3 separate regions of the Homo sapiens genome follow, and all the other regions are linked to region 2. Evidence: fine-mapped expression QTL. A gene starts in region 2. Each other region holds a variant in brackets. All regions are shown on one strand. Distances are between the middles of the regions. Region 1 overlaps RNASEH2B (ribonuclease H2 subunit B). Region 2 holds the start of RNASEH2B (ribonuclease H2 subunit B). Region 3 overlaps RNASEH2B (ribonuclease H2 subunit B).

Region 1 (8,183 bases), 40 kb before region 2:
TTCTTTTGCTTCTACAGGCTCATCTGATAACTTTATTTTCTGCAACATTAGAGCAGTGAAGTGGTGTCAAATGTCACTTTGACACAACATCAATCCATTAAAAAAAAACCCAACATGTATAATTTAGACCTCTACAGAGGCGAATGGGACAGCAGACCCAGCAAAGGGCTTACTTTTTACAGGCTCCTTTACATTTTGCCAATCATCTAGGGAATTGAGCCACACATCACTCCTAAGAAGCAGCCTTGGTGATGGTGGATATGATTGGGTAAGTACATGGCTGAGCCCCTTAGCTGGTCCAGCAAACACAGGCTTTGTAGGTGCCAGGTGTGGTGGGCATGAGGGGATTGCTAATTACCAGATGAATGCAAGGCACAGAAGTCAAAATGAGAATAGTCTCTTGAAGGGGGCCAGGTGTCCAGCCAGAATCCCTATTTCATTTACCTCCTGGGCCAGTTTAATGTCCACTTATGAATGAAGGGACAATATTTATCTTACTTTATCCATGCAAGAACAACCTTGCACAAGCAAGCAGCCAGTAAGAGAGGGAAGCACAGAGAGGCTAAATGAATAGCTTAAGGTCACCAAGTAGAGGACTTTGGCCAAGATTTCAATTCTGATACAGTGTTCTTTCCATTAGGCCCAATGCAACTAAGTCAGACCTTTACTTAATATTTTCTCCTTTCACATGAACATTTTACACCAGTGAATGTGAGAATCTTGTCAAGGCCTTAATGATCACAATATAGAAGAAATCATGCCACACTTATTATGTAAAAGGTACAAAAGCAGGGAAGACAAGTCTTGCTGTTGAACATGGAGAATTGACTGCATGGTGATCACAACCCAGATTTTTATAATTTTCAGGCTGTTTATGGAGACACCAGGTTGACCAGACCCAACATGGATCTAACCTAGGAAACAGACTTCTTCCCAGCTTCATTCTTCATGCCCCTGCTTTGCTAAACAAAGAACGGGTAGAGTTGGTGCTAAAAGATTCCACAGCCCATGGTGTTTTATCCCATAACCCAAGAGGATAAAACACCATGTCTTAAAATTGTTTGCTGTAAAAAAACAGAGGCTCATCCTGGGAATATACCACACACTATAGGAAAACCTCTTGGCCACACAGCAACCTCTAGCAAATGAATCATTAAAAGAAAAAGACTAATCCATCACAAATGAACCACCTATCAGCACCAAGTGAATGTATATTTGCAACTTTGTTAAGAATATATGTTTCAGCTTGGTGCAGTGACTCATGCCTGTAATCCCAGCACTTTGGGAGGCCGAGGTGGGCGGTCACTTGAGGCCAGGAGTTGGAGATCAGCCTGGCCAACATGGCAAAACCCCATCTCTAATAAAAATATAAAAATTAGCTGCGCATGGTGGCATGTGCCTGTAGTCCCAGCTACTCCGGAGACTGAGGCACAAGAATTGCTTGAACCTGAGAAGCAGAGACTGCAGTAAGCTGAGATTGTGCCACTGCACTCCAGCCTAGATGACACGGCAAGACTCTGTCTCAAAAAAAAAAATACATGTTTCTATTTAAATTAAGACAGCAAAGGGTGTTTAGGTGATGCACATTTTTTACTAGAAAGGTATCTTCAGCTAGGAGGGTGAAACTCACAGCTAATAATGCTGAAGGCCAAAATATTTTCAAAACACAAAAAGCTTGAAGTTATGAGGATGCTTGTGTTCCTTCTCTATGGCAAAATGTTCCTAACACAGATGTCATTATAAACACTTAGACATTATTCCCTTTTTTTCTTTAGAGACAGGGTTTCACTGTGTTGCCCAGGCTGGAGTGCGGTGGCTATTCATAGTTGCGATCATCATATACTACAGCCTTGAACTCCTGGGCTCAAGCGACCTTCTGCCTTAGCCTCCTGAGTAGCTAAGACTACAAGTGTGTGCCACTGAACTGATGAGGTTCACTTTTCATTGATAATTCAAATAAAAAGTGTTCATTACAAGAACTTAAGATGAAAGGTACTTTTGTATGGACATAAAATGTTTAATTGGAGAAATGACTTGTTCAGGTGTTTTAATAGCTCACAACAAAACAAGATACCAGTTACAAGTGTTTAAAAAAAGAAAATGATTGTGGTAGCCTCTACATATAACTAGTTTGTATGTTATTCCCAGTGCACTGTTGAATATATTGGAAAAAAAGATGATTGAAGCATTTACTAAAATTTTTGTTATTTAAAAGACCAAATCCCTATGGATTTGGGAGATTGTTTCAGCAGAGAAGTGGCTCAGAAAGACAGTAACAAAGGCTATGACTAAATGGATACAGTTCTGGAAAGAGAACAAACTGCAGAGTACCACAGGGATAATGTTAGGCCTTCTTACAAATGATTTGCAAGAAGGAACTCGGGAACATCTCCAAACCCACTGGTTGCATTCAACTCTGCTTGCTGACAGTGACAAATTGAAAAGACTGGAGCAAGTGAGGGTTGGAAGCTGAGTTTCAACAAAGGCAGACATATGATAGTAAAGGAAAATAATATAAAACATATTAAAGATGACAGGCTCCACGCTATCGATTACAACATAGATACAAAGATACCTAATGACTACTGGAATATATTTCCTGGAAACAGTCAACTATATTACTGTAAAAATCAATCAAATCCTGGATACAGACAGGAAAGCTAGCAGAAGATATGTTCTACGCTTGTTTAAACGATGGTACATCGTCTAGTATAGTTTGTCATGTGTACACTGGAACCCCAGAAAGACACAGAGTAGAAGACCTCGAAAAGCAACTCAAATAATATAGAAGACAAGGCTGGGGTTTAGGAAGAGCAAGATGCCAAAATCAAAATCAGGGCTTGGCAAATGATGGCCCAGGGGCCAAATCCAGCTGGCTGCCTGCTTTTATAAATGAAGTTTTACTGGAACACAGCCATGCTCATTCGTTTATGTATTATCTGTGGCTGTTTTCACAATACAACAGCAGAGTTGAGTAGCTGCAATAGAGTCCATCTGCTTCATGGAGCCTAAAATATTTACTGTCTGGCTTTAGAAGAAAAGGTTTGCTGATC[T/C]CTGATCTAAATCATAAATGATGAAGTCACAAACAACTTAAATTCTGAAAATTAAAATAAGAAAACAGAAATCAGGAGCAGAGAAGAATAAAGTTATGAAACATATTACTCCAAAAGGTATCCAAGGTTAAAGCTTTCAAGAATAGGTTTAGATCAATTCATGAATGATCTCTAAGTTACTAAGGAAGATAGATATTTGGGAGAAAAAAATCTGCTTCATTTTTGGATGAAGAAAAATAAGAAGCACGCTGAGAACCTACCCTCTTAGTTTCAGCAAGACAACTGTGCCTCTCTAGGTCCTCTAGAGCTACTGTCAGAGATTAACTACCGGAATGAAAGACGCATGGGTCTGGCCTAGAGCAGTCCTTAGATCTTACAGCAACAGACTTCTGCCCAGTGCTATTCTCCAAGAGAGTAAAACATGCATTTTTTTTTGACAACATGCTGAACATAGGCCCAAACAAACACTGCTGTACTTTCAATTTTCTGTCCTTTTCTAAGGACAATGTCTTTGGAGCCACCACCACCTTTATACAGGGAATGACATAAAAAATTATGAGCATTTTAGCTACCTTGAAGGCCAAGAAAACAATGCAAGGGAGAAGGAAAGTTTGTAACATCCACAATATGTCCATTTTACATTCTCAAGGCATCCGTTACTTTGCTGGCTGAAGAAATGACCTCACTGACAAGCTGGTGCACATGTTTATTTCCCTGTCTTGGAGCAGAGTTTAACTCATCTGAGATCTGGCCTGGGCTGAAGGAACGCTGCAATTTGCAGTCAGGTGTGGTTTATGATTGGCTTCTCCATTCTCTGGATCTAGGAGATAAACATACCAGCTGCAGAGGAGCTGTGGGTAGCAGCCTGAGAATGAATGAGGAAAAGATTTTCCACTAACAAAGATTACACGTAAATTCATCAATCATTTCAAATTCAGAAAAAAAGTGATCATCTTTGCTCAAAGGATTCTTTGTATTATGGAAATTGTTTTCTGTTCACCTTTGTGCCAGTGACAATTAGATTTGGCAAAATGAGTTTTAGTTATATATAGAGTATGCTTAGTGATTACTAAATTTAATTAAGTGATCTAACTAATGCAGGAAGATTTAATTTTAACTATATGTCTTTAATATTTTCACAGGGGTACCTTGCTAAAACCAACTCTTCTTGGGTTTTCATGGCACTTTATTTACCATTCAGGTGGAATCCACAAAAATAAAAAATAGTGATGGAGAGCCCAGTACAATCTTTATTCCACATGGCATCACTCCATGCAAAATGGATTTAGTACACCTTAAAATATATTAGAACCAACTAAACTCATGTGGTAAGAGTGTAATATTTTTCTAAGTCCCCCAAAGATATCTTAGTCACAGCTTCTTACCTTTGATGGAGGATTTGGCAATGAGGCTGAAGGTTCTGGAAGCCTAAGAAAGTTAAAAATAACAATCAAAGTCATCGTTTTTCATAGACAAACAAACAGAAAGACAGGGCCAACTTAAGACTTAGTAAGTCCTACTTTTCAACTTACAGCTTTACCTCCATATATCTTCCTGTTCAATCAACTCAGTGTAAAGAATGAAAGTTTTCTCAATAAATGAGTCTTTATTTTGATATGTAAGTCCTTGTTTTGGTGTTGTCTGAACTAAAAAATAAAATTAGAACCCATCTGTTGGAACAGAGTTCCTTTTCTTTAGCCTCTATAAATTTGTGTTTCGGTGTTGGAGTATTTTTTCTTCATAGTGAAGATGCTAACATATATTTAAAGGTGAAAATCATTTTAACTGTTCACAAAAAGCCACATAAATTTCAACTTTTCTTCCATTAGAAAGCAGTTTAATTGGCATACCTTTCTTCTGAACTCTTCAACCAAAACTTAAAAATGTTAGTGGAAAGAAAGGAATCTATACAAACAATGGAGTACAAAGACATGAGGTCTCTAACAAGACAAGCAGCATAGAAATCTGGGGATATATTAAGCAGAAGGATATGATTATCAATTTGAAGCAGGCTTTCAGCACACTTTAACTATTATAGAAACCAGTTTCCAATCATTGTTTTTTAAAGTAGGACCTCTGGAATTTGCTAAAACCAACAACTGTATCTATTAAAAAGTCATTTTATCTTCATGACTCAGAGGATAAAAAGGATTTATAAGGATCAGGAAAAGCTATTAAATCATCACACACATAAAATCTTAACAACAAAATTAAGTAACGATTTTGCAAAAATCTAGAAAATAAACACTTCTAACACTTCTTTTTCAACTTAAAGTCTAAATGTATAAGCTCTTTATAAAGAAAGGAACATACATTAAACCATTCTTAAAACCCTTCTTCTGCCCCTCAAAGACACAGATTGTGTTTCATATTACTTTGACTTCCAAGTCTTTGGCATAAAGTCCCTTTAGTGAACATCTAGTGATAATAGTGAAAATGATATCAATATTTTGTAAATTAAAAAAAAGTCTATATTCCATCTACTCTTTCCATCCCTCCTTTCTTCCTCTTAAAACGATCACAAAGAACCAAATTAGTTAAGTATAATTGAGGATAAAATTTTAACATAGTTAATCCTCTAAAATCAGACCAAGCCATAATTCCAATCTTGACATTCACTAGTTCCTGCAATCCGTATCCATCAAATCAGTTCATTCCAATCATCCATTAAAAATCATCCCCAAAGCACAAAGTATATGACATAGCTGAAGAATAATCTTGTATCATAAACAGTGATATGATAAGCCATAAGGAAACCCCACTGCTGGGGAAACCAAGAAGCAAATGGTACTTCATTATGACTGAAGATAATCAATACTCACTTTAAGTATTTAGATAAGTCATCACTTAATTCTTTAGGGATGTAGTCAGATATCAGACCATGGGCATAACGAATATAATCCTCTGAAAGAAACAGAAGGAGGAGTGAAAGCAAAAAAAAAAAATAGTAATTATGGTGGTTTTATAGTCAAATTGACCTGAATTCAAATTCTGACCCTATCTGGATAAAGGGAACTCACTTAAGCTCTAGCCTCAGTTTTCTCATTTGTAAAATGGGGATAGTAATATCTATCGGTCAGACTAGTGGGAAGATATGAGGGATGAGATATGACATGTGATGATACCAAAGATATAAGATAAAACAAGTATAATACAGTAGATGCTCCCTAAATGACATTAAAAACAAAAACTCAGGGTTGCTTTCTTATTTGAAACCACTGAATACAAATAAAGTTTAAAAATCATCTACAACAATATGAAATAGTCATGTCTTTTTTAAAAGGGTAATCTTTTCTAAGCCTGCTTCAATAAAGAATAAATCTAATTATTCAACAGTAATGAGTGTACTCATTTAAGAGAAATAAAATACCATGTCTCTACTACTAGGTATTTGCTTTATAAGAACCCTGAAATATATATATATAGTTCTATACATACATATTGTTCTATATACATAGTTCTACATACACACACACACACACACACACACACACACACACACACTCCCAAACTAATAAAATACTTAAACTTAAACAACTAACTCAGCAGAATTTATCATCATTAATTCTAAAGCATTTGGATTCTCAGTACTAAAATGCAGCTCTGGCAGCAATTAGAAATACAGTTACATAAGAAGACAATAAAATGTTTCAAAACTCTGTTCCTGAATTCAGTATTTTATGTAGAATACAAGCAGATAATCAAACTTAATCATAAGATGGGATAACCACGTGGGGATATAAAGCACCAAAAGCAGACCCCAGGTTTGCTGCTGGGATATTCACTCACTTCCTTTTTTCCATTCTCCTCTGCTCTCAAGTCAAAGTAACAATTTGCCTCAGTATTACATAGAAAATGACTGCCGTCTGGGGACCACCTGATGTCAAAAAGTCTTCAGTAAGAGATTTTCATTGTCAATGGAGAACTGAAAGTTATCATTTGACCCTTCTTAAAATTGCTCATGGATCTGGGATAGTCATTATCCAATGAGTCATGACTAGACCAAGAAAACTATTTTAAGAAAGTCAACATATAGTTCATTTGCTGCTTCTGGTACCAAACCAACCTAAATATCTAAAAAATGAAATAATGTAAAATATGTAAAGTTTACTTTATGGTCAGGACACTAAATGGCAATATAGCCAAGCCCAGAACCTTAATATGTAGAGTACTGGTAAAAGCACTAGACTTAGAACAGAAGATCTTGAGGATAAGTTACCTACCTCTCCATTTAAAAAATGAGATGATCTGTCTAAATAACCTCTAACATCCCTTCTCCTACTTTTAAAACAAAATCTATGGTTCCATCCATCCATCCATGGATGCATCTATCCACCCACCTATCTATCCATTAATCATCTATCTCAATCCCTCATCTTCTATTGTTAAAGCCAATTAAAGACACTGACAGCTGGTAACTCAGTATGGCAAAGGTGCTGTCCACCACTCCCAGAATGGCAGTAGCCAACTACCTATACATGCAAGGTAGATTCCTGCAAATCAGATTGCCTGAATTACTATCAATCACAAACAGGCCACTATTCCTAGTTTTTATTTATGTAATGACTAAAGCCATATGTATACCCTGAATAAGGGAACAATGAATTGGAGTTTAACGTCAGAATAATTTCTGTCTCACCATTTGAGATTGTTAACTGCATTATATAGCTGTTCTTATTCAACTATACATATAAAAATAAGAGGACTCTACTTGGAAAAGAAAATAATATACCTTTTTTAGATTATAAAAGAATAACCTAAAAGAAAAATTGCCAAGTAAATCAATTTTCATCTAAAATCAAAATATATTGATCCCTGTATCAGGAAACATGCATCTTGAGAAGAAAATGCAAACAGATGCAGCCACTGGAACAGTACAACTGTGCCACAGGAACAGTATCACAAAAAGATTACAAGTGTGGGCTTCAGAGACAAGCTCCATAAGTAGCTCAGCTTTGGCATTTACTAGTTGTGAGACTTTGCACAGGGCCTCAAGATGCTCATTATGAAATTTACTGGGAGGGTTGGATGAGATCATGTTTGTATAGTGGCAACTTAGCAAAGGGCCTGGCACACAATACACCCTCAATAAATGATAGCCAGGGTTGTTACTACTATCAATGTAAAAGA
Region 2 (8,185 bases):
TTTTTTTCAATACACAATGTTAGGGTTTCCCAATTAACATTTCCTTGGAGATGAACCCAATTAATTGTTCAGCCCCCAACAGCAATAAATGCAGTCTTCTAAACGCAATGAATCAGGTGACCTCTCACACCTGGGTACATCCCAACTTAGTAGCATTAACAAGAAAAATGGACTTAAGAAAAACATTAAAAATATGACTCAAACATTTACTTTTAGGGCAGAAAAAGAGGGATGGAAACTTATACTACTTTCCAAAAAGTAAAGTAATGGCCTCTTATAGAAATTAAAACTGCAAACAGGCTAGTATTCCCAGGCCATTTTACAGAAACATTTAAGACCATCCCAAACTAAAAGAAATGCTTGCCTTGCTGAAATGGGAAATGGTTCTGTCTTCACCAGCCTATGAAAACCAACGTCCCAAGTCTGCATATCTCACAGTATCTCTTCCAAGTTCCAGATTTGTTTATCTGAGATAGCCAGCTTCTCCAAACAAACTGAAAACTAGAGGCAAAGATACCTAAATCAAACATTTAAATATATCCTTCAAGATATAACACAGTGCTGTGGCAGGCAACTCGATGAACAGCATGAATTAAATGTTGGAAAAAAGTATCATTGCAAGGTTAGGCATCTTTACCCTTGTCTCACGGATAAATCCCTTTAAAGTTCTGTTGGCCTGTGGGTTCATGTGCTCACTTTTCAGTACACAAAGTAAGTTCTTCAGATCCCAAGTTTTCTAAAACCGAATACAAGCCGCCTCCGCCAAATACTTTTGAAAAATGTTTAATAATCTTTGTTTTCTTTATTAAGGGCCCAGCTTTACTGGAGTATGGTGCTCCCTCAGCCAAGGGCATATCGTTTCCAACTCCCGAATGGGTAACTAAGCAGGCTGATTTCTCATCTTCTGGAAAAGACGACAACTACATCTGGGAAGATGAGCCTCACACTCTGCACTTACATGCACTTCCTTGACCATATAAATTCTGGCCCACCACAAAGAGGGCCAAACATGAGGCTTGTCATTCTTATATCCCAATCTAGTTCCCAAAGTCTTTACTGCAGTGGTTCCTGGGGTGGGGGCAGTGGTTTCCGGACCAGCAGCATCAGTATCTCTTGGGAACTTGTTACCAATGCACATTCTCTGGCCCCAGCCCAGGACCTACTGAACCAGCACCTCTGGGAACTGAGGCCCAGCTCCCCAGGTAAATGATGCCCTCAAGTTTGAGAACTAGTGTTGCACTGCAGTCGCTGTCAAACCTTGTTGTACCCTCAGAGCCTGCAGGTGGCGCTAAAGGCCAGAAGGAAGAATTGCAGGAGCTGGTAGCTCAAGTTTTTAACTGTTAAGAGTTCCTGCCCCCCTGACCACACAGCTCTTTCTAGCAGTTCCAACAGCTGCTCAGCCTCCCCCAATGCCTTAAAAGGTCACAGTAGATCTCAGCTCTGAACAGAAACTCAACTGAAACTCTTCCCACAACCCAGCAGTAGATATATTAAAACCTACAATTTTCAGGGATACAATCAATATTTAATTCTTTTGAGGGTTTTGTGTTTAATACAAGGACACAAACACACGTATAAAATGACGATGTCAATACTGATTAAACAGAACAACAAAATAAGAAGCTCAAATTATCATCAGCTATTGTGTATATCTGAAATAACAATAATGCACTTGATTCTGAAAGAATGATTAGAGTTCCTACTCTGAAAATCTAATTGTCTTGATGTGACGAAGTGAGAAGAAAGGATGATTTTTCTAATGAAAAGCATGTATACGGGTAGCCCTTTGCGAGATTCTGTCAAAACCCTGAATTTTGCATTAGCTGTTTTACCACCCAAACGTTTTTACCGAGGATGTGCAGCAATGGGAACTCTCATACACTGCTTGTGGGAATATAAATCAGTATAACCACTTTGGAAAACCATTTAACATTGTCAACTACAGCTCTACACACAAGTACTAGAACCAGCCATTCCACTCCAGGGTATACACCCTAGAGATATGAGTGCCCATGTCTACCAAAAGCCGCCTAAAGGAATGCTCTGAGAAGTGTAACTTGTAATAGTTGCAAACTGGAAACAACCCAAATGTCCATCCACAGTAGAGATACATAGTATGGATACTCATACAATTAAACAGAAGCAGCAATGAAAAAACTAACCAACCAACCAAACAACTGCTACAACATGAATGAATTTCACAACAAGGATGAATCTTTCAGAGTGAAAGAAGCCAGACACAAAGGGTACACTCTTATTCAAACAGGCAAAACTAATCTCTGGTGACAGAGGTCAGCATAGAGGTTCCTGGGGCTATCTAGGAACAGGCATGAGGCGTTATTGGAAACAGTCTACATCTTGAACTGGGGGATGGTTACTAGGGTGGTGTATACGTATGAAAAGTTCAGTGAGTTGCATACTTAAAATCCGTACACTTTATGTATGTTTTATTTTTAGAGGCAAAAAATATTATTGACAGCCTGTCATGTAAACATTTTCAATAACCATCATAAAACTCTAAATTCCTGGGAAAGAATATTGTTATCAGAGTATATTTACTGCCACAAACACTGCATTTGCTGAGCTAAAGTCAAAACTTAATACAGGGAACAGGAGATGTTCCTTTTTTCCAATGTTACATATATAAAAAGACCAAACCTTTCTGGCTTGCACTCCCTAGGCCAAATTCCTTTAACTGTGTCATTTAATCGGTCCTTCCTTGTGTGGCACTGGCTGTCCACTGTCCCAAGCCCTCGCATGTCCTGGATGGCCGGTCATCATCCACACGGGGGCTGAAAGGCCCGGCTCCAGCACTCCTGTGGTCATCATCCTGCTGAATCGCTTTGAACTACCCTTGGCCTAACCGCGACTCCCATCCCGCTTCCCTCCTGCCTCGCCACTGCAGGCCTGTCCCTTTGCTTTCTTAAAACTGCGCACCGTCTGAGGCCACTTCGAGCCTACTGGATCCCTGGTTCCAACCCAGTAGGATCACAGAAGCAGGGCCAGCTGCCAGGTAGGGGACACCAAGGGCAGAAACCTCCGGGGCCCGCAGCGCACCGGTGACCGCGAACCCGCGTGGCTCCCCTCAGGCTGAGTCGGCTTCCACCCTCCCACCCGAGCCACCGGGGATCAGGGCCCGGGAAACACGCTCGGTCCTTTTCGGCGCTTCCGGGTTTGAAAACCGCGGCTTGCTATGACGTGTGACCAAAATGCGGGGCCAGCTGTCCCAGAGAGAATCCCATCCCGCGCCGGGCCGGGTAGTGGGAGCCACCGGGGTGGGGGGCGGCGCGCCCGGGGTCGCGGGCCGCTCCGCCAGTTCTTGGGCCGACCCCGCCGCCCGGGCGCGCGTGTTTACCTGAAACCAGGAACACGTGCTGCCGGGCGCCAACCCCGTCCCCGCAGTCCACGCCAGCGGCCATGCCGCCCGCCTCTTCCGGGGCGCCGCAGGCTCAGCGCCGCGGGCCTCAGTCTCCCAGCCCCGCCGAAAATGGCGGGAGAAGGGTCTGTTCCGGGTGGCGCGGCGCGCTGAGGGACCGGCAGCGCCCGGGAGGAGGCCCAGGGACCGAATTTCGTTTCGTTTCCGAGACCAGCCTGCTGCTCGTGTTACGTTTTTAAATTTAGCGCCAGGCGAGGGGCTCTGAATGCCGGCCGGTGGCCGCAGGCAACGGGAAGGGGCCGCGGCCTCTCCCTCGCGGCTCCGCTAGTGGTAGGTGCTCATCGCGCGCCGCAGGGCGCCGAGTGACGCGGAGCGGGGCGGGGTCGCCGGGGCCCCGCGCTCTGTGGCTGCACCCAGCGGCCCTCCATGGTCTAGCCAGCGGGCTAGGATTGGGTCTGCGGGGTGTGTGCCCGGACAACGGGTGACGCCCGCCACACCCCCGGGGCCGGGGGACTCACCTGGAGCTAGTCCGTGTTAAGGACAATAGCAGTCACATCGGAATCCGAATGCAACTCTTAGCCATGGTCCTCAATTATTTGTGAATATATATTGGTCATCAGTTGCATTCTGTGTTGCTATTGATGTGAGAATATGTGTGCATTGTGAGCTACAAGGGATGTCCTCAATTTGGACTCCGTCCTCATCACTAAAAGAGGTGCACAGTTTTGGGCTCAGAATATGAATTTGTTGTTTTGGAGAACGCTGTATACTGAGTTAAAAACTTAGACATTTATTTAAAAAGTGATGTTTAAAAAGTTAGAGCCATGAAATTTGGGGATTTAAACTTTTAAAAATAACATTTTAATTGAAAAGTGTTGTTTGGTACATGGTTTTTAAGAAGAAAGTACATATTCCTTTCATACTTTAGAGAAAAGCACGGGCCAGGCGCAGTGGCTCAGGCCTGTAATCCCAGCACTTTGGGAGGCCGAGGCGGGCGGATCGCCTGAGGTCAGGAGCTGGAGACCAGCCTGACCAACAAGGTGAAACTCCGTCTCTACTGAAAATACAAAAATTAGCTGGGTGTGGTGGTGCACATCTGTAATCCCAGCTACTACGGAGGCTGAGGCACAAGAATCACTTGAACCCAGGAGATGGAGGTTGCAGTGAACCGAGATCCCACCACTGCACTCTGGCCTGGGCTACAGAGCTGGACTCTGTCAAAAAAAACAAAAACAAAAAAATCCACAAAAACCTATTTTTTTTTTTTTTAAAGAAAAGCATGATGTATCTCTTTTATCCCAGATCCCAGGGGTAACTGTTAACATTTCTTCTCTATTCTTGCAGAATTTTTCCATGCAAAAACAAGTTAATGTCTTATTTTTGCACAATTGAAAGAATAATATACATAACTCATGCACTTTGCTTTTCATGTTTAATCTTGAAGATAGTTAAATTTAGCAGCACTAAATTTATCTCGGCCCTCTGAAAAGGTTTTTAACTTCAAACCTGTTTCCCATGGGGTGAGACCAATACAGCTGCAGTTGATTGCAGGACACAGCTGGTGGAGAAGAGGCCTTTCTGGCTGAGGAAAGGCGCCTCTTGCCAGTTTTGGGGCAAGGAGCAGCAGATTGGTACTGCTCTGATCTTCCCTCTCCCCCAAAACGACTGTAGAAGATGCTGTGGTGTATAGCACAAATCCCCAGGCACACCATCGTCTTACTAACAGCTACAGGAGCACCCCATTATTCCTGTAGGATGGGATCCAAAACCCCCAGTGAAGGCCTAAAACCGCAAATAGTACCAAACCCTAATATACTGTTTTTTCCTTTGCATGTATATCTGTGATAAAGTTTAATTTGAAAATTAGGCCCAGTAAGAGATGAACAACAATAATAATAAAATAGAACAATTCTCACAGTATGCCAGCATCACTACTCTTGCAGCTACTAAGTGACTCATAAGGAGGGGACCTTCTGCAGTGTGGATCCGCTGGACAAAGGTAGAATTCAGGTCCTTTGCAGGACGAAGCTGGATGGTGCAAGATTTCTTCACACCACTCAGAACACTGTACAATTTAAAACTTACGAATTGTTTCTGGAATTTTTCGTGTAATATTTTTGGACCAAGTTCGACTGGGGGTAACTGACACCTTGGAAAGCGAAACTTCGAATAGGGGGAGCTACTGTACATGAGAAATGTTACCCATGATTCCCTTGCTCAGACATACATACCTGTTTCATTTTTCTCTGATCCTTTCTAGCCCTTGGCTGTATTAATGTATATTTTTGTGGTTGTTGTCACAATTTAGACTGTTTTGTCTGCTTTTCTCACTTAACATTGTCATAAGCATGTGCCCCTTCATATCGAGAAGTATCATTGTTAATGAAGGCATGATATTTAACACAGCTGGTGTACTAGGGTTAGTTATCCATTCCCTAGTGTGCAGTATTTAGGTTATTTCAAACTGTTATTATAAATAATGCTACCATGTGTATTGTATATGGGCTATGTATACAGCAGTTTGACACAGTGATTGGTGTACATATACAAACAGATGCTTTGTATCTAAAGAAAAAAATTTAGATGCAGGAAATTATTTTTAGCAGAATACCATGTAGGTAAATTTAAAAGGCACAAAGAACAACACGATGTAATTTACAAGGATACATGCATATTTAAGGCCATGTCAAGCACATAAAGAAATGGGTGTCTTTACATACATGTGGCCAACAAACATATGAAAAAAGTTCAACATCACTGATCATTAGAGAAATGGAAATCAAAACCACAATGATATACCATCTCATGGCAGTCAAAATGGTGGTTATTAAAAAGTCAAGAAACAACAGATGAGGCCGGGCACGGTGGATCACGCCTGTAATCCCAGCACTTTGGGAGGCCGAGGTGGGCGGATCACCTGAGGTCAGGAGTTCAAGACCAGCCTGACCAACATGGAGAAACCCCATCTCTACTAAAAATACAAAAAATATTAGCCAGGCGTGTTGGTGCGTGTCTGTAATCCCAGCTACTCGGGAGGCTGAGGCAGGAGAATTGCTTGAACCTGGGAGGCAGAGGTTGCAGTGAGCCAAGATCGCGCTATTGCACTCCAGCCTGGGCAACGAGAGCAAAACTCCGTCTCAAAAAAAAAAAAAAAAAAAAAGAAACAACAGATACTGGCAAGACTGGGGAGAAATAGGAACTCTTTTACACTGTTGGTGGGAATGTAAATTAGTTCAACCATTGTGGAAGACAGTGTGGTGATTCCTCAAAGATTTAGAGCTGGAAATACCATTTGACTCAGCGATCCCATTACTGGGTATATACCTAAAGGAATATAAATCATTTTATTATAAAGATACATGCATGTGTATGTTCATTGCAGCACTATTCACAATAGCAAAGACATGGAATCAACCCAAATGCCCATCGATGATAGACTGGATAAAGAAAATGTACACATACACCACAGAATACCATGCAGCCATAAAAAGGAATGAGATCATGTACTTTGCAGAGACATGGATGAAGCTGGAGGTCATTATCCTCAGCAAACGAATGCAGACGCAGAAAACCAAACACCGCATGTTCTAACTTATAAGTGGGAGCTGAACAATGAGAACACATGGACACAGGGAGGGGAACAACACACACTGGGGCCTGTAAGCGGAGGGTGGTCGGGGAGGAGATCATTAGAGAAAAGAGCTAATGCATACTGAGTTTAATGCTTAGGTGATGGGGTGATAGGTGAAGCAAACTGCCATGGCACACGTTTACCTATGGAACAAACCTGCACATCCTGCACATATACTCTGGGACTTAAATAAAATATGGGTGTCTTTAATATGGAGAGGAATGGGAGAAAGCATGGGTAAGGAATGAGGGGCAGGAGAAATTAAATGAGAGGCCCAGGCTCGTACGGGTAACGGTTGCTATACTCTGTGAATGAGAAAACAATGAACTCTGCCCTTTCTGTAAATAATTTCCTTTATCATTAAAAAAAATTATGTAAGTACCTTTTTGAAAAGGATACCATTACTGATAGGCTGACTCCAGATCCCTGTTGTCTTCAAGGTAAAGTCTAAGGTGCTAAGCTTTGAACACATGGCCCTTGAGATCCGGTCCTGGCTGGACTCCCCAGCTACAGTTCCCACCACCTATGTCGCTCTCCACCCAGTCCACAGTGTGGCCACAAGGAACTGCCTGTGGTTCTCTTCTCTGTCACATCTAGCACTTGGTATTGTGTCCCCAATGCTGAGACCATCCTGTTCTCCACAAGCATCATTCCTTCCCTTCTCCCTTACCCTTTACCACTGCCAGGACAACTCTCACTCATCCATCAGGTCTTACTAAGTGCCTTCTCTTCCTGCCTCCTAATACTCTTCCCAAGAATAAGTGAGATGCCTCCAATTTCACCAGTGAGAGGAACCAGTCAGTTCCTTGAGGGAAGAATAGCATCTAGTAATTCACCACTATCTTGTCAAAAAATAACAATGGCTTCACTGAGTATTAACTATGCTGAGCACTGCACTAAGCAGTTAACTCGAATGACCTCTTTCAGCCCTCCCACAGCATTAAGGGTAAGTATTATTTAGTCACCCACATTTTACAGAGGAAGAATGTAGAGTCGAGAGAGATCAAGTACCTGCCTATGATGACATGACTAGCAAGTGGCTGAGCAGGAATTCCAACCCAGGCCTTAGGACTCCAGAGACTGGGCTCTTCACCTTCCTTCCCTCCCTGGTGTCCCCATGCCTGGGACAAAATAATATGGAAACATAGCATGTGCTCAGCAAATATTTTTTGAGTAAA
Region 3 (8,185 bases), 26 kb before region 2:
AGAATCAACGTTATTTTTCATATGTATACCAAATTCTTCCATCAACATTTGTTGTAAAGACTATCCTTTTTCCCACTGAATTATCTTCACACTTTTGGAAAAAAAAAATCAATTGACCATATAAGTGTGGGTTTATTTCTAGATTCTCTATTCTATTCCATTTATCTATATATTTATCCTTATACCAACACCAAATTTATTTTATTTTTATTTATTTTTTAAATTTAGGGACAGGGTCTCACTCTGTTACCCAAATTGGAGTGCAATTGTGTGATCACAGTTCACTGTAACCCCGACCTCCTGGGCTCAAGTGATCTTTCCTCCTCAGCCTCCCAAATAGTTGGAACTATAGGCACATACCACCACAGCTGGCTAATTTTTTTTTCTTTTGAAACAGAGTCTCGCTCTGTCACCCAGGCTGGAGGGCAGTGGCGCGATCTTGGCTCACTGCAAGCTCTGCCTCCTGGGTTCATGCCATTCTCCTGCTTCAGCCTCCCGAGTAGCTGGGACTACAGGTGCCCACCACCACACCTGGCTAATGTTCTTTGTATTTTTTAGTAGAGACAGGGTTTCACCGTGTTAGCCAGGATGGTTTCGATCTCCTGACGTCATGATCCACCTGCGCTGGCCTCCCAAAGTGCTGGGATTACAGGCGTGAGCCACCGTGCCTGGCCCACAGCTGCCTAATTTTTAAACTTTCTGTAGAAATGGGGTTTTGCTACTTTGCTCAGGCTGTTCTCGAACTCTCAGCCTCAAGCAATCCTCCTGCTTCGGCCTCCCAAACCGCTAGGATTACAGGCATGAGTCATTGTGCCTGATCTCCACATTTTCTTGATTATAGTAAGTCTTTAATTCAGTTTGTGTAAGTTCTCCAAATTCTTCTTTTTCAAAATTGTTTTGAATATTATAGGTCCTTTACATCAGGGCTCCCCAGTCCCTAAGCCATGTACTGGTACCAATCCATGGCCTGTGAGGAACTGGGCCACACAGCAGGAATGAGTGTCAGGCAAGTGAGCATTACTGGCTGAGCTCTGCCTCCTGTCAGAACAGTGATGGCATTAGATTCTCATAGGAGTGCGAACCCTATTGTCAACTGCACATGCGAGGGATCTAGGTTGTGTGCTCCTTATGAGAATCGAATGCCTGATGATCTGAGGTGGAACAGTTTCACCCCAAAGCCATCCCCCTCCCTGCCCCATCCATGGAAAAATTGTCTTCCTCAAAACCAGTTCCTGCTGCCAAAATTAGGTTGGAGACTGCTGCTTCTGCTGCTTTACATAGTCATATAAATTCTAGAATCAGTTTATCAATACCTACCAAAAAAAAAGAAAAAAAAATGGAGCTGGCTAAGTATTACACTGAATCTATAATGTAATTATATAGTGTAATTATAGTGTAATTTGGGGAAAATAGATACCTTAAAAATATTGAGTCTTCCAATCCACAAACATGGCCTATTTCTCCATTTATTTAATTTTTCTTTAATTTCTCTCAGCAATATTTTGTAATGTTCAGCATATTGGTCTTGAACATATTGTGTTACATTTAGCACTAGAATGTTATTTTTAATGGTAGTATAAATGGTATGTTTTTATTCCATTATCCAATTGTTCAATGTCAGTATATAGAAACACAACTAATATTTGTATATTGAACTTGTATCCTGAAACTTTGCTTATCAATTCTAGTAACTTCTTTTGTAGATTCTTTTGGATTTTTTCATACATGACAATATTGTCTATGAATAAAGACAGTTGTACTACTGACTTTCCAATCTGTATGTCTTTTTCTTGTCTTATTGCACATGCTAGGACATCCACCACATGGTGAATAGAAGTGGTAAGAGCAGGCATCCTTCTCTTGTATCCAGTCTTGGGGGAAGATTGTGTTCAGTCTTTTACAATGAAGATGATGTTAGCTGTTTAAGTTTGCCATAGATGCCCTTGGAAGTTCCCTTTTATTCTTCATTTGCTGATAATATATATCATGACTGAATTTTATCAAATACCTTTTCTGTGTCTTTTGAGATAATCATACAATTTTGTAATGCATAAATATGGTAAATTATGGTAAATGCTCAACCAATTATGAATTCTTGCAATAAAGCCCGCTTAGGTTTTATATATTTAATTTTTAGATATTTGATTTTCCAATATCTTCTTAAGGATGAGGCATTTGAGAATCTTACGTATTTTTCCCCCCATTTAAAAATCTTTTTGAGAATGGGCATGGTGACTCACACCTATAATCTCGGCACTTTAGGAGGCTGAGGCGGGAGGTTCCCTTGAGCCCAGGAGTTCAAGACCAGCTTGGGTAACATAGAGAGACCCCCTCATCTCTCCAAAAAAAATGAAAAAATTAGCCAGGTGTGGTGGCTTGTGCCTGTGGTCTTAGCTACTCAGGAGGCTGAGGTAGGAAGATTGCTTGAGCCCCAGAGATTGAGGCTGCAGTGAGCCGTGATTGTGCCACTGCATTCCATCCTGGGCAACAGAGCAAGACCTTGTCTTAAAAAAATAAAAATAAAAAAATAAAAATAAAAATCTTTTTCTTTCTGTTTTTAAAACTTCCATTATTTTGAGATTCACAGGCTGCAGCTTATTAAGGGAAGAATTTGATAAAAAGAAACTGCCAAACCTCTAGAGATTGAATACATCTTTTACTGTGTGAAATTTATTCTAAAGTATTTTATGTTTTGCCCATCACTTAAAAATAAAGAAAAAAATTGAGGCCTAGGGTTTTTGAAATCTGGCAAATATAAAGGCTAATAATATAGCTACTTTGAAAATGGAAGTACAGAACTTCCAAAAGTTAGGCAATATTGAGAAGCAAAGGAGACTAAGACAAGTTCAGATAATGATGCAATAAATGGTCAGGAGTTCGGTGTACAAGAGGGAAGGGATGACACAGAGAGAGCCTCTTGCTCTCGGCTGCAGACTGTAAGGAAACAAATGCTGAGGCACTAACATTGTTTCTAAATCTGGATTTCTGGGTTTTAAGATGATTGTTCTTATACAGCTAATAGCAGAATTCTGGACAATGAGTTAACTGCATTTTCAGCTTGCATTAAGTTGACAAAAATTAACATGGCTTAATTAAATTATTCTTCATTACTTTATCTTTTAAAAGTGGTTATGGGCTAATTCAGGTCACCCACAAAAAGACTGCTGTCTTCTGCCAAACTCAGCATCAGGGAATGTCTTTAATGGAACTGCTTTGATAAAACCCTGGCACCATATACCCCTCAGTTCCAAACTGGAGCTCCAAGTGTGGCCAAGTATGAATTTACTGGACCCCTTAAACATAAAATGCAATCAATAAGGTTCTTCTCTTTCCCACTGTAAGCTTACACTTCTTGGAATCACCACTTTCTTGGTCCCAGAAGAACTGTCATAGTTGGCCAAACCATCTATGACCCAAACAGCCACAACTTATCAGCCTGATGCTCTGGTTCCCACACTTTGTTTCCATATTAACCCTGAAACTACTTGGATGATTTTTTAAGACACCAAAGCCAAGTTTTTATACTATTTCTAACCTGTCAAAACACATTCACACACACTGCCTTACTTTTCCCTCTGAAAAATTAAATGAATGATAGTGAAAACGCATCTCTTCATTACCCTATCCTGCTCCTCCAGCCCATGTTCCCTGTGTCCAGGATCCCACCACTACACATCCTTTGGGTCAGGCACAAACCGAGAAGTCACTCTTGACTCCTCCTTCTCCTTGACCACCACCCAACAACCAGATGCAGTTGGGTCCATCTCTAAATGGCTACTTTCTTCTTGTTCTATCTCCTAAGATCAAGGCCACCATTATCTCCTGTCTGGATCACTGCAACAGCCTTGGTGGACCTGGCTTCTCCAATATACTCTCCACACTGCAGACTGCCATGCTTAAAACTTCACAGACACTCCACTACCATTAAGCAAAGTCCAAACACACACAGGGCCCTTTACCATCTGGACCCATGCCCAGCATTCCCGCCTCATTCCTTACCAACCTACATCCTTCCCCAGAATCCTATACTTTGAACTCCTTGGAACTTCCTGAACCTGACAAACTTTTCCATACATCTGAGCCTCTGTTACACTGCTTCTCTGACTATCCTTCAGGACTCCATAAAGAGGTCATTTCCCCCAGGAAAGCAACACAACATCTACCCACCTACATTCCCCACCCAACCCCGCCAGATTAGAAACCTGTCCTGTGCATCCCCAGTAAATTCAGAGTTCACTTCCGTTACACTGTGCGGTCACTGCTCAGCTTGTCATTGACCCCCATCAGACTGGGCGCAAAGTGAAGAAAAGGACAATGTCTTATTCATAAGTATCTAGAGCTTAGCACTAATGTGCAACATATGCTTTTTGGAAGGTGCTCGATAAATGCTTCCATCTATTAAGGTACAGGTTTTACGTAATTTTACAATGAGACATCTGAGGCAGAAGGCAGCTGAGTGACTTGCCTGATGTCACAGAACTAGTTCAAAGAAGAAGTGAGACTGAAGCCACACCTTGTGATTCCTGCCCTGTGGACGTAGGCCCTAGACTGCCATGGTTGTAGTTCCAAAGACTAAACACTCCAAAGCAATAGAGGAACAGTGCTGGCAGTGTTAGCAAATCTGAATGATAGTTTTCCCTATGGTGGACACAGAATAAGCCTTACATTCAGTGTGTCTGTAAGCAGCCACGTTCTTAGGCAAGGTCCATCCTTTCTACCAGCCATAAGCCTTTAAGTTATACCATACCTTTTTCCTCTGTCACATGATGAAGTAACTTCTCAAGTCCAGGAAGTTTCAGCAACAAGATGCAATTTGGAAACACGTTATCCACCACAACTTGATCAAGGGGCTGAAACTTCCCCTGAAAAAACAGTTAGTTGGAAAGCAAGCATTTCATTCAACAAAGACATTCAG[A/C]AAAAAAGAGAAAAAGACACATTAACTCATGGCTGGGCCTTTAAACTTAGTGCAGAAGCCACCTATTCCATCTAAGGAATCCCTACAATGGGACAGGCTCTAGGACGGACCCCAGCTCCCTTCAGGAAGCTCCTGTGAGCACTGGAGTCCCACACAGCACACCATCTACCTTGGGTGTACAGTCCCCAAATGAAATGGGGAAGAAAATCAATCTACAAAAGCACTGGAAGCCACAGAAGCTTGCAAAGATGGTGGAGACTGCCTGGGGATGGTCCAACCCATTCAATTTGAAGAACCAGCTGTGGTCACAGAGCAAGAGTCCTGACTGTCACATTGGAACAAGCCCAGACCAGGCCCAGACATACATCTGCCTCCCCATCATCACTCTAGGGATGATGAAAGAAGCACCCGCCACAAAAAGAAAATACAAAAGTGAATCTACCCCTGTCAAAGCTGCCTCACAATGCTTCCAAATTTAGACCAGAATAAAAGAAAAGACAGCCAGAGGGAGAAGTCATGGGAAGCTGCAGACAGGCTAAATCAGGCTCAGCCACAGAAGTTTATATGGCCTGGTTGCCAGTGGGCCAGAAGTGCAGACCATATGGATTCACAACATCATTCTTTGGAATTAGGTCTAGTTTTTCGTAACTGTACTAGTAGCAAGTAGAGGTGAAGTTTGTCTAAATTAAGGTATTAGCCCCCTGATTTGGGGACACCAGACTGTACCAGATGTATGGCCTTGCCCATGACCCACTTCTAGCTCGCTCTACCTCTCGTGTACTGACAACTCCTCCTGAAGACACAAAAACTGCATCTGATCAATTTCTGCAAATGCAGCTTTCTTGGGTTTTAAGGGTAAAATCTTCTCAATCATTTAAGAACACGTGATAGCTTGCCATACTTTCTCTTAGGTTAACTAGTGCCATGAACTATCTCAATTTAAATGTTCTTTTTCCTTCAAATAGTAAGAATAATGCACAGATTTTTCCCAAGTCTTACTGTCTTTAGATTTCTACCTTAAATCTATAGTCTTCCATGATCAATCAATATCTTAAATATTTGACTACTCTAAAACAATATTTATATGTAATGGACTACCATACAATCATGATATAAAATAATTTTGTAATTAACTAGTGTTTCATTCTTATTTTTATTTACCATATATACATTGAAGGAAATGCAATAAGCAACCTGCCTTGACTATAAAGCTAGTAGCAGTGGGATACCTAGAAAAAAAGTTATTTTTACTGATGTTAAAATAAAGTTTAAAAGAACAGGTCACATTTCAAAAGTGTGTATCAATAATTTTTAACTAAATAGGAAATGATCATGTCTAAAATGTAGAGAAGGAAATACCTAAACATCTCAAATGTTACTTTAAAGGGCATTTTTGGCACTTGGGAAGACGTGTTTGGGAAGTACGACGGTTTAAAATGAAAGCCAAAGGCCACCCTGAACAGCATTTCTGCTTCATTCTGCACTTGTCAACGTGAGCTCGCCATAGCACCCTGGAGGTGCCCAGAGTGCCAAGACAGGGTTAATCCCCCAGAGTCATGGTCCTAATGGGAGATGGAGAAATGCTATCAAAAAGGGGAGGGGGAGCCTTAAGTGCAGATCAATACATTTGCTGAGGCTGGTTGGTGTCTTTCTGCTCATTAATTTATCCTAGAAAACACCACATAGGTGAGCCACTGAGGTTTACAAATTCCTCCCTGAATATTCCCCAGGGCGTTCCTGGTGGTGATTAGGACCATTTCTGTTCCTTAAAGACACGAGGCTTACCAGCCTCACAGCTTGTGTGCCCTCGTTATACCGGCCATCACAGTAGCTTCCAGATAATGGGACACATGATTAAACGAAGGGATAAAACTTCACTAATTCACAGTGAAGGGCGGAGGGCAGGGAAGGAGGAGGCTAAAAGAGGCTAAGCTGCATCAAGAGAAAACATGCATTGATACTTTATGACTTTCAGTATTTACAGCAACTTAAATTAATTTACCTACCAAATGGAGGTTTCAGGAATTTGATCTAAGGATTAAGTAAGAAATTTATAAGTGTTCAAACTTTATGCAAACATGAGAGTCCAAAAAAACCAGATTCTTCTAAGCTGTTTGAGTGACACTTATCACTCAAAGTTATTAATTAAAAGATTTTCCAACTATGGTTGATGGATCCCTGGGTCATGAAGTACCTAAGCTCAAAGCTATTTTCCTAATACTGCTAAGACGCTATCTGCATTTTCACTGTGTGGACATCTGCACAGATGATTCAAATGCAATGGTGGGTAAAACTGCTGGCTCTTTAGCACGAGTCTGGTGGTGGCACCAGACTGTCCTAGTCATCATTTGGATCCTCACCGCCATTTATGTGCAGTTTAAAAAATGCCAGTTTCACTTAAGAATATCCTTGAGCAAGTAGTAAAAGCAATTAATTTTACTTAAATCTTGGCCCTTGAACACAAGTCTTGTAAATTATCTGTGATGAAAGTGAGGTATGGCTAAAGGCCTTTGGCTGCTTAACCAAAGATAAGCTGATTACCAGGAAGAGCATGTTCTCCTGGGGCTGGCTGAGTTGCAAGCAGAACCAGCTGCTTTTTCATGGATATCATTTTTATTTGAAAAACCCACTATGAATTACGGTGATTCAGACCCCGGTATTAGGCAGAATATGAACGAAGTGAGCCTGTCATTTCACGGGAAAGATTGACAATATTTGCGGCCAATAATAAAATTTGAGCTTTCAAGCAAAAATTAGAATTGTAGAAAATTTCTATCTGCCACTATGACAGCTTCTCAATACCTAAAGAGCTTTCTGATGAGATCAGTGGTAATATTAACAAAAGGGAGTGTGTGTGTGTGTGTGTGTGTGTGTGTAAAATGAGATGTGTCAACATTTGGAAGATATGCATAACTCAGCAAATCAATATTTTCCAAATGACCAAAGCATGATGTTACAAAATCATACACTGGTAAAAAGATCCATTTTAAGTGCAAGATAGACCAATGCATTTTAATGTAACAGAGCATAGAAAGTTAACTGACAAAGTTTCACATTTCACATTGCAACTAAACTTTAAAAAACTACTTGTTGATTTTTTAGGCAGTATTAAAGAAGAATATCCACAATAATCTAAAAAGGCTGTAACATTATTTCTTCCTTTTCTAACTACAAAGATGTATGGGGCCGCATATTTTTCATATAATCCTACCAAAATAACATATGGAAACAGACTGAATGCAGAATCAGATATAAGAATCCAGTTGTCTT

Evidence for each region. PIP is the estimated chance that this variant, and not a neighbour inherited with it, causes the effect.
Region 1: its variant is fine-mapped to the expression of RNASEH2B in whole blood (INTERVAL, PIP 0.97).
Region 3: its variant is fine-mapped to the expression of RNASEH2B in whole blood (INTERVAL, PIP 0.96).

What each region holds. Positions count from the first base shown.
Region 1 is chr13:50,945,761-50,953,943 of GRCh38, reverse strand. It overlaps RNASEH2B (ribonuclease H2 subunit B), which reads right to left. Exons shown (of 11, transcript NM_024570.4): 8 at 5,876-5,957; 9 at 4,439-4,481; 10 at 1-39. Among named protein-coding and RNA genes, the nearest start is that of RNASEH2B-AS1, 39 kb to the right of the region's middle. The variant T/C (reference allele first, on the strand shown) is at 3,054.
Region 2 is chr13:50,905,311-50,913,495 of GRCh38, reverse strand. RNASEH2B (ribonuclease H2 subunit B) reads right to left here and starts at 3,705. Exons shown (of 11, transcript NM_024570.4): 1 at 3,356-3,705. The coding sequence starts at 3,419. RNASEH2B-AS1 (RNASEH2B antisense RNA 1) reads left to right here and starts at 2,784. Exons shown (of 3, transcript NR_046552.1): 1 at 2,784-3,013. RefSeq lists silencers at 2,951-3,000, 3,211-3,450, 3,461-3,890.
Region 3 is chr13:50,931,562-50,939,746 of GRCh38, reverse strand. It overlaps RNASEH2B (ribonuclease H2 subunit B), which reads right to left. Exons shown (of 11, transcript NM_024570.4): 5 at 4,748-4,862. Among named protein-coding and RNA genes, the nearest start is that of RNASEH2B-AS1, 25 kb to the right of the region's middle. The variant A/C (reference allele first, on the strand shown) is at 4,916.